4 separate regions of the Homo sapiens genome follow, and all the other regions are linked to region 1. The links come from fine-mapping of genetic effects on plasma protein levels. A gene starts in region 1. Each other region holds a variant in brackets. All regions are shown on one strand. Distances are between the middles of the regions.

What was found. PIP is the chance, under the fine-mapping model, that this variant and not a neighbour inherited with it causes the effect. The UK Biobank Pharma Proteomics Project read protein levels with antibody pairs (Olink). The fine-mapping took linkage between variants from a reference panel, not from the people measured, so its PIPs are less certain.
Region 2: its variant is fine-mapped to the plasma level of the IGDCC4 protein (UK Biobank, PIP 0.97).
Region 3: its variant is fine-mapped to the plasma level of the IGDCC4 protein (UK Biobank, PIP above 0.99).
Region 4: its variant is fine-mapped to the plasma level of the IGDCC4 protein (UK Biobank, PIP above 0.99). The variant lies in the coding sequence of IGDCC4. If it changes the protein, the assay may bind it differently, which can mimic a change of level.

What each region holds. Positions count from the first base shown.
Region 1 is chr15:65,421,481-65,424,240 of GRCh38, forward strand. IGDCC4 (immunoglobulin superfamily DCC subclass member 4) reads right to left here and starts at 1,467. Exons shown (of 20, transcript NM_020962.3): 1 at 1,313-1,467. The coding sequence starts at 1,382. RefSeq lists enhancers at 370-479, 500-769, 1,745-2,279.
Region 2 is chr15:65,507,916-65,510,415 of GRCh38, forward strand. The region is part of intron 2 of DPP8 (dipeptidyl peptidase 8); the gene reads right to left. Among named protein-coding and RNA genes, the nearest start is that of DPP8, 8.5 kb to the right of the region's middle. The variant T/C (reference allele first, on the strand shown) is at 1,467.
Region 3 is chr15:65,434,281-65,436,780 of GRCh38, forward strand. No RefSeq gene overlaps it. Among named protein-coding and RNA genes, the nearest start is that of IGDCC4, 13 kb to the left of the region's middle. The variant C/T (reference allele first, on the strand shown) is at 1,510.
Region 4 is chr15:65,409,853-65,412,352 of GRCh38, forward strand. It overlaps IGDCC4 (immunoglobulin superfamily DCC subclass member 4), which reads right to left. Exons shown (of 20, transcript NM_020962.3): 2 at 1,168-1,518; 3 at 326-467. Among named protein-coding and RNA genes, the nearest start is that of IGDCC4, 12 kb to the right of the region's middle. RefSeq lists an enhancer at 747-1,404. The variant C/G (reference allele first, on the strand shown) is at 1,435.

The DNA.
Region 1 (2,760 bases):
GGCTGGAAAGGGGCGTGTCTTTGTAGGGACAGAAGGGGTCCGAGGAGTTCCCGGCACTTTCCCACCCGCTGTTTGGTTTTCCTGGAGATGGGCCTGGGGCTGGCCAGGCGGAGGCTCCTTCCCCCCGCCTCCCTCCCACGTGGCCTGGCTGAGTCTCTCTGGAAAGCCGCAGCAGCTGGAGAGAAATCCCCCTCCCCACCCCCACCTCCAAGTCCCTCCCCGACTCTCCCCGGACACATCCTCAGCTCCCCCCTCCGCGGGGAAGGCAAGAACTAGGCGAACAAAGCGGCCAGCCCATCCCCCTCCCAGCCCTGCCACCTACACTCCCCATGAGCCGCCCCCAAACGCACACCGGACAGGAAGCGACAGAGCTGTGGGTGGAAGCCGCAGCCCTAGACACACACCCTTGGGGACTTCGCTATCCCCTCCCCAGCCCTTTCTCCAGCTTGGACAACTCTGACTTACCCCGTACCCACTCCGCACTGGGCTGCGGACTGGATGAGGCCCTGCTGACCTCGTCCACGCTTCCCTGGTCGGTCCCTGGGGGGTGGGGCCGGGGTGACACGCGTCCCATCGTGAGAACAAGCGCTGGACATGTCCACGAAAGCAAATGGTTTCCTGCCCCCTCCCCCAGTCCACTGCTGGCCACAGGTTTTGGGGAGCAACACCTCCCTCTACCCCTCTCTAACCGGCCCCAGGGACCACACCCACTGGGCAAAGTTGAGTGTTGTTTTATCACCACCACCCCCAGTCAAACGGGATCCATCGCTCTGTCCCCCACTATGGGCAAGGACACTTCCCAAATGCCAAGGCCAAATATTAGCTCAGCCCCATAAACACAATTGCACACGCACCCGACCCAAATGGAGGTGCAGACACAACCCCAGTTCCCTCCTCTTTTACACACACTCTCAACCCAAGACACGCGCAGGCAAGGCAGAGCCCGCCCCGCGAAAGCCACCGACACCGCAGCTACCCGCCCCGCCGATGCCACGCCGCGACCATGGCACGCACTGCGGACACGACAGGAGCACTCCCAACACACACACACACACACACACACACACACACACACACGACTCCAGACTCTGCGAACCAAAGGCACACACCCACTGCGGACAAGCACGCCCCACAAACGCCCCCCGGCCGCAGCTCGCAGACCCCCGCGCAGGCATCGCGGGCACCTGGACGCGCAGCCCCCGCACTTGCTCGGGACTCCGGCTTGAGCCAGCCCCGCAGCCCGATGCAGACCAGGGCGCGGGCGCACCAGCACTCCGCAGTCGCTCCTGCCTCTCCGGGCGCCCGCCCTTACCGCGCGCGGCCAACAGGCAGAAGGTCAACGCGAGGAGCCCGCGGCCGCGGCCGGCGTCCCCCCGCGCCATGGGGCTGGGCTCGGGCCGCCGCCGCCGCCGCCGCCTCCCCGTGCTTCGGCCGCCGCCGCGGGGGGAGAGCGCGCCGGGCGTCAGTGGCCCGGGGAGGCGCGGCGCCGCGGGCGGGGGCGCGGCCTCGGGGGCCCGGGCCCGAGCTGGGGCCGGCGCGGGGGCCAGGGCCGCTGCCGCCTCACCCGCCCCTCCATCGCCATCTTGGGCGAGCGGCCCGGGAGGGGGCGCCCGGCGAGTGTGGCCACCCTGGCCCCGCCGGGGACCCTGCGCCCGCGCGCCACGGCCCTGCGCCTCGCGGGGGCTCCTCTCGGCCCGGGTCTGTGTCCCGGTGCCTCGCCCTCTCCGGGTCGCCGCGGGCCCCCGTGAGGCCGCCTGTTGCTGGGTCTGTCTCTTAGTCTCCCCGTCTCTGAGTCTTCTGGTCTCTCTGCCTCAGCGTCTCTATTTCTTCTCCCTGTTGCTGCCTCGGGGTCTCCACCTCCGTTCCAGGCTCAGGGGAGGCAGATTCAGGGCCACGGTCTTTGTCCAGATGGCCCCCTTGCCACCCGAGCCCAGTCCATTCCAGCCCAGGTCCTGGCCTGAATGCTGGTTCGCTTCTCCACACGTTGCGCCAGCCCACCTGCGGAGATCTTGATAGTCCTATCTGCCATCCCAAACCAAGGGCTTCTCTTGGCCTCCTTCCCTTGCTCTGGCAGTAACTAACACAGGCAGGACACTTTTACACTACCTTCAAGCACTACCATATTCAGATGTCGCCGCATGGGGAAACTGAGGCTGGAGAAGGTGAAGTGACTTGCCCAAGGACAGGAGGCTAGGGAGCAGCAGATACAGGACCTGAACCTTGGTTTTCTGACTTCGGAAGGTCATCTCCACTCCCTCACCCTGCCTCTGCTGTCCAGCATTTACTGAAGTACCCTTTTTCTCATTCTTCAACGGTACTTTCTCTAACCTACCTAGCCAGACTGTTTGCCTCAGTATCCCGCAAATATTTCTTGTTCTACAGCCAAGGGTTCAATTGTCAGGCTAGGGTGGGGAAAAGAGTACAGATTCAATGACCTAGTTAAGGTCCTTTCCAACTCCAAGATGCCATAGTTCTTCCCTTCCCTGTGTCTCTAAGTGTTCCTGTGACTTAGAGCCATCTTGTCTCTACACCTGTCTGTTGTCAGTTAACCCTCAATAATCACTGGCGCTTTGCATATCTAACAGGCCTGGCGTTTATTCATTCATTGCCACGCCCCATCTTCACTTGCCCTATCAGCAGCATTTGACTTAGTGAATCACTCCCTCTTCCTTGAAACACTTGCTTCCCTTAGTGATCTCATCTGGTCCTCAAGGCTTTAAAGAGCATCTTTATGCTAATGATGCCCAAATGTATACTTTC
Region 2 (2,500 bases), 86 kb after region 1:
TAACTGAATTCTAGTTTTTATTCATTATAAAAGTTCTGTAGGCTGGGCGTGGTGGCTCATGCTTGTAGTCCCAGCACTTTGGGAGCCCGAGGCAGGCAGATCATTTGAGATCAGGAGTTTGATACCAGCCTGGCCAACATGATGAAACCTTGTCTGTACTAAAAATACAAAAAAATTAGCTGGGCGTGGTGGCACGTGCCTGTAATCCCAGCTATTTGGGTGGCTGAGGCAGGAGAATTGCTTGAACCCAGGAGACGGAGATTGCAGTGAGCCGAGATCACACCACTGCACTCTGGCCTGGGCAACAGAGCAAGACTCCGTCTCAAAAAAAAAAAAGTTCTGTAACTATAATCATTAATAAGACCTTTAGGGTTTCCAATAAAACTATACTAATATTAAAACAATACAGAATCTGGCAACTGATCTGCTGAAAATCTCTTTGTCCTTTATTGGGGAAGGGCAAAGGAAAAAGGTCTAAATTAAGTAGAAGCCAAATCTCTTCTGCAAAATCATGTGATAACTGGATGGGAAGGTCACAGCAGTGTAGAGTGAGTTACATATAAAAGATTGACAGAAACACACTATGGTTATGAAGATATGAACCAAAGAAAACATAAGGTAAAACAAAGCCTTTCTATTCTAAAAAGGTATTACTGGCCGGCCGAGGTGGCTCACACCTGTAATCCCAGCACTTTGGGAGGCTGAGGTGGGCGGATTACCTGAGGTCAGGAGCTCGAGACCAGCCTGACCAACATGGAGAAACCCTGCCTCTACTAAAAATACAAAATTAGCCAGGCGTGGTGGCACATGCCTGTAATCCCAGCTACTCGGGAGGCTGAGGCAGGAGAATCACTTGAACCCGGGAGGCAGAGGTTGCAATAAACCGAGATCACGCCACTGCACTCCAGCCTGGGCAACAGGGGCAAAACTCCATCTCAAAAAAAAAAAGGGGTATTGCTTCCAAAAAGCTGGAGGAGTGAAGGAAGGAAAACATAAATCACACAAAAATAACAAGAAATCTCCTGGGTGAAAGAGATCCTCAACCTATGTTTCTGAATTATTAATGCCAGCAGAAGGTAGCCTCGGGAAAGGTATTTATGATAACTCCCATGCTAACCCTTGCAAATGTTGAGGATAAGCCCCCAAATAACCATATCTTTTTTTATCCTCTTATTTTTCTAATTAGTTTATGTTGCCTTTGGAGTAAAAAGTTATATATCAGCTGACATTTACTTCAGCACTCAATTTTGTGTAAAATCTACTTTGTAGATTCCCAAGTTGCTTTGCTATAGAATTCTTAAGACTGTGGTCACCTATCAATACCATTCACAATTTTACAAAATGTGATCCTTCTAAGAGCCTTCAGTCTTCAAATATTAAAACAAAAAGACAAAACTGGTTTTCTTCTCTCCTCAGTAACAGCCATTCCCCCACAATCATTTCAGTTGCCCCTCCCTATATGCTCC[T/C]AGTTCCATAATGTCTGCCTTGGCTTTATCCATGACCAGTAAAAATTTCCCCAGCACATTCTATGTTCTGACATAAGCACAAATGGGCTTTTCTCATTCTTTCCTAATGGTATTTATTGGTCTTTAGAGCTACAGCAGTCATTTTGGGCCCATGTCTTCAGGCAACAGTATCAATGAGTCTTGTTTCTCTTTAGGATAGCATGACAAAGAACAAGAGGCAAAATTAAGCATGTGATGAAGTAAAATGCTAATGTAACGAAATGCTTGTTACTAAATAATAGAGCTTCTTCTAAGCATACCACGTTTGGAATAAGGGCTCTCAAAAATGTATGATTTCTTATAAAAGAAAAGATTTCTGGCCAGGTGTAGTGGCTCACATCTGCAATTCCAGCACTCTGGGAGGCTGAGGTGGGTAGACAGCTTGAGCTCAGGAGTTTGAGATGAGCCTGAGCAACATGGTGAAACCCAATCTCTACCAAAAATACAAAAATTAGCTGGGCATAGTGGTATGTGCCTATAGTCCCAGCTACTTGGGAGGCTGAGATGGGAGGATGGCTTAAGCCTGGGAGGTGGAGGTTGCAGTTAGCCAGGATCACACCACTGCACTCCAGCCTGGGCAACAGAGTGAGACCGCCATCTCAAAAAAAACAAAAAACAAAAAAGGCCAGGTGCAGTGGCTCACGCCTGTAATCCTAGCTGAGGCAGGCAGATTGCTGGAGCTCAGGAGTTCCAGATCAGCCTGGACAACATGGCGAAACCCGTCTCTACAAAAAAAAATACACAAATTAGCTGGGCATGGTGGCACACGCCTGTAGGCCCAGCCACTTGGGGGATTGAGGCGGGAGGATCACTTCAGCCTGGGAGGTCAAGGATGCAGTGAACCAAGATCATGCCACTGTACTCCAGCCTAGAAGACTGAGACCCCGTCTCAAAAAATAATAATAATTAATAATTAATTTAAAAAATAAGCAAACTTGGGACAATCCCACAAAGGATTAATTCACTTACTATATAAAAGGCTTCAAATCATTAAG
Region 3 (2,500 bases), 13 kb after region 1:
TGGCACAATGGGCTGAGACCTGCTCTCTCCTGGGGTCTCTCTGGACGCTCTGCCTGCAGCTGGACACACTGATCGTGGCAGGATGGGAGCACTGTCTTCCGCAGAACGGAAAGGCCTGCGACACTGTCATATTGTCCATCCCTCTTTGGAAGCTCACCACCTCGGGCTGGAGACTGTGTCTTCCCACAGCTTCTAGGGGCTGGAATCCTCACCCTGAGCCTGTTCTACCCAACAGTCCTTTGCTCCGACACTTTCCCCATCAAAGCACGACTATCCCATGACCTGTCCCGTCATTTGTCTCCAGATAAGCTAGGCCGGCTGAGGTGAAGCGAGCAGCAGAGCTGGGGGCAGATGCACAATCTCCTTAGCTTCCGTCATGCATGGCCCTTCGCACTTCTTCCCTGGCACCCCCAGCTTTTTCTACCATTCTCCCCACAATCAGCGCTCCCAGTATGCCAGCCCCCACACCCCTTATCCCTTCATCCCTATTCTCCCTGCCTGGAATGACTTCCTCCCACCTGGGGAAGCTTGTTCTTTAGTGCCCAATCCAAATGCCACCTCCTTTGTGCAGCCTTCCCTGACCACCCTCTTTTCCACTGCCCAGAGAACTAATAGCTCGTGTCTGAGTGCTACATGCCAGGCACTAGGAGCTTTGCATGTGTTTTCTCATATCAAAGCCCACAGCAACTCCGTGAAGTAGAATAATCATTAGCTCCATGTAGCTGCTCAATTCATGTTGCTCGCCGATTAGCTGGTGAAACCAGGATCAGCATTCCACTTCTGCACTGTGACCTTGGGCAAGGCATATACCTCTCTGAGTTTTCATTTCTTTCTCTGACCAAAAAAAAAAAAAAAAAAGTAGGGGAATAATAATATGCCTGACATCCCAGTTTTATTGTGAGGATCAAATTGAATATAATGATGTCATAAGGAAGTACTCTAAGTGGTGGGACACTAACCATACAAACGTTAGCAGTTGGTATTCAGAGGAAAATGTGTCACCTGGCTCACAGGTAAAACATTTTATCCCTAACAAGGGCCTTACAGTTAATGATGCCTTCATTTAAAGCAATATGCAGGTCGGGCACAGTGGCTCACGTCTGTAATTCCAGTGCTTTGGGAGGCTGAGGTGGGCAGATCACTTGAGGTCAGGAGTTCAAGACTAGCATGGCCAACATGGTGAAACCCTGTCTCTACTAAAAATAAAAAAATTAGCTGGGTGTGGTGGTGCACACCTGTAATCCCAGCTACTCAAGAGGTTGAGGCAGGAGAATCGCTTGAACCCGGGAGGCAGAGGTTGCAGTGAGCCAAGATCACGCCACTGCACTCCAGGCTGGGCGACAGAGTGAGTGAGGCTCCGTCTCAAAAGAAAGAAATAAAGGAATGTGCAATACCAGAAGATCATCAGCCTTTGGGTCAGGTAAGTGGGAAGTATCTGAGGCCAGGGCAGAGTTCAGTCACCCCCACAGGAGGCTTTTGTACCCACCCTTGTTCATGGCCCAGAAGCTG[C/T]TGTCCTCCCAAGATCCCTGGGGCTGAGTCATATTCCTTTCCCCTTCCAGCATCTATCTTCTCCCCAGGGTTTGGGCCTCACAGCTCATGTCCTGGAGAGCACAGTGCGCCCTCTGGCAGGCTTGGATGGGTGGGGTTGGATCAACAGCAGGAGGGCCAACTTCACTGTCATGAATCACTTCCAAACCCCCATCCCATGCTAGTCTGTACTTGACAATTTGGCCTCACAGCAACTCTGTGATGTATTAAAACTCCACTTTAGGGTCCAGGAAACCAAGGGTAGAGAAGCAGAGGTGTTGCTCAAAATCACAACTGCTGGGTCTGAACCCAACTCTATCAGATCCCAAATTCCCTTCTCTTTTTCATGCTCTCTCTCCTTTCTCTGGGCAAGTTCAGGGAGATTCACATCCAAGATCCACCCAGCACACACTTCTTGAGCTCAGCATCAGCTCAGTCCCTGAAGGATCTCAGACTTCAGGCAAGTATCATATTTCCTTGATTCTAGGATCATTCTTCTGTGTGTGTGTGTGTGTGTGTGTGTGTGTGTGTGTGTGTGTGTGTGTGTGGGTGGGTATTTGGTTTGGTTTTTTGTTTTTTGAGACAGGGCCTGGCTCTGTCACTTAGGCTGGAGTGCAGTGGTGCAATCACAGCTCACTGCAGCCTCAACCTCCTGGGCTCAAGTGATCCTCCTGCCTCAGCCTCCCAAGAAGCTAGGACAATAGGCATGTACCACCATCCCTGGCTTTCATTTTTTTTTGAGACAGAGTCTTGCTTAGTCGCCCAGGCTGGAGTGCAGTGGCGCCATCTCAGCTCACTGCAAGCTCCGCCTCCCGGGTTCACGCCATTCTCCTGCCTCAGCCTCCTTAGTAGCTGGGACTACAGGCACCTGCCACCACGCCCGGCTAATTTTTTGTATTTTTAGTAGAGATGGGGTTTCACCATGTTAGCCAGGATGGTCTCCATCTCCTGACCTCATGATCCACCCGCCTTG
Region 4 (2,500 bases), 12 kb before region 1:
TACGGCTTGGGATAAGCCACAGCTCCTCTCTGGCCTTCAGTCTCCACAATAAAGCAAGTGGTTGGACTAGATGTGCTGGGAAGGACTCTACTACTACACCTACCCAGGCTCCACAGCTCAATGGGTGGCTTCCTCCCAGGGAGCAAAAACTTCTTGTCCAACTTCTCTTTGGGACTAGACATGAGCCAGGAGTCAGGCGGTGGTTAACACTCAAGTCAGCTTAGGTAAATGCAGCTACCTCGACTCTAAGAATCTCAGTTCTGAGCACACCCCAGAGCCCTCTCTGCCCTGCCTACCAGGACCCGCTCCCCTACAGGGCACTCACCGAGGCTCCTCAGGCAATGTCACCTGGTCCTTCTCCCAAGTAATGATGGGAGCTGGCAGCCCTTCAATGTGGCACTCAAAGCGAGCTGTCCCGTTCTCCTCCACCGTCTGAGACTCCGGGTGCAGAGAGAAGTCTGCGAGTGCTGGGGACAGTGAGACACAGGCAGGGACGGGAAAAGAATAGGAGAGAGAAGCCACAGCAAGCACAAACAGTGAAACACATCCGCATGGAGACACAGAAACACACAGTCACAGAAACACACAGCAGAGCCAATTCAGACCGAGGGAGACACAACAAGAAGTGGTGATTAGCGGTCAGATACTGCCAGCAGAATGAATTCCAAAGCCCCCCTGCCCAACATCATCATGATGGTCAAACTATACAGTAAGATGCACACTTCTTCTGGCCTGAAAGTTACTTCATGGTGATCTGTGCCTCCTGAGAGCCCCCTAAGGGGTAAGGCTGGAGCGTGGGGTTTGGCTCCACATGTTCCACCTGCCGTGCAGGCAGGAGCTCCCTTAGGAGGCAGCTTTGTGCCTCTGACACAAAGGGGGCACTCTGGCAGGCTCCCTGGAGGACAGCACAAGCCCAGACTCTAGGACTCAAAGGGAAAGAAAAGCAGAAGGAACAGGGGAGTGGAGAAGAAGCGGGAAGATTATGGAATACCCAAGAATGAGGATAGACAATACCAGGAAGAGACCTATTGAGCAGGATGGGAGGCAGGGAAAGGGGGAGTGGGATCAAGAGAGAGGCATTTGTGCAAGTAACTAACTGCAGATCCCACTTCGCACACCCCAAGTCTGGGTTTCAGCCTCAGACCCCCGCCCGATGCAAGCACTTACTGGCAAGCTTGACGACAGCAGTCTGGCTGGCCAGCACTCCGAGGGGGCCGTGGGCTAGGCACGAATAGTTGCCTTCAATGACCCCCACAGCCTCAGGGACTGACTCGTCACTGCCATTGGGTGCTAGTGGCTGGGACAGCCACAGGGAACCATTGGGCAGCAGGTGTAAGTGGTCGTGCTCCAGCAGGGTGTCCCCATCCTTGCTCCAGGTCACCCTGGTGGGGGGTCCAGCGGCAGCAGCCCCCAGGCTACAGTTTAGCACTGCAG[C/G]CTGCTCTGGGCCCAGGATCACTTGCAGTGGCCCCACTCCACAGCTCAGCTCCACAGTCGTCTCCTGGGGCAACAGCAGCTCCCCTGCATAGAGGAGGAGCACGGGGCCATCAGTGTATGTCCCCCCACCTCCCACAGCCTCTGCTCCTGAGTCACCCATGCAGGGGCTGGGGCAAATCAAGGAGAAACACCTGCATCTGGATCCTGGCTCTCCCCTTACTAACTGTGACCTTGGACAAACTGCTGCATTCCTCTGTGCCTGTCTTCCCCTGCTGCTCAATTTCCTCATAGCAGCATTATTCATAATAGCCAATGAGTGGAAACAACCCAAAAGCCCATCACCTGATGAATGGATAGATTACTCAGCCATCAAAAAGAATGAAGGACTGATGCATGCTACAAGGTAGCAAGAAAACTTGACGCTAAGTGAAGGAAGCCAATCATAAGATGCCACATTTTGCATGATCTCATTTCTACGAAATGCCCAGAGGAGGCAAATCCATAAAGACAGAAAGTGGATTAATGATTGTCAGTGACTGGGAGGAGGAAGGACAGAGAGTGACTGCTAATGAGTACAGGGTTTCTTTTGGGGGTGATGAAAATGTTCTAGAATTAGATAGTGGCTGTGGTTGCACAACGTTGTGAATATGAATATACTAAAAACCACTGAGTTGAACACTGTAAAGGGTGAATTTTGTAGTACGTGAATTGTCTCTCAATTAAAAAAGCATACCAGCCTGGGTAACACAGAGAGACTCCGTCTCTACAGATAATTTAAAAAGTTAGCTGTACATGGTGGCACAGGCCTGTGGTCCCAGCTACTCAGGAGGCTGAAGCAAGGAGGATCGCCTGAGCCTAGAAGTTCCAGGCTACAGTGAGCCACGATCACGACACTGCACTCCAGCCTGGCTGGCAGAACGAGACTCTGTGAGAAAAGAATATAGTGGCTGGGTGCAGTGGCTCACACCTGTAATCCCAGCACTTTGGGAGGCCGAGGCAGGTGGATCATGATGTCAGGAGTTCAAGACCAGCCTGACCAACATGGTGAAACCCCGTCTCTACTAAA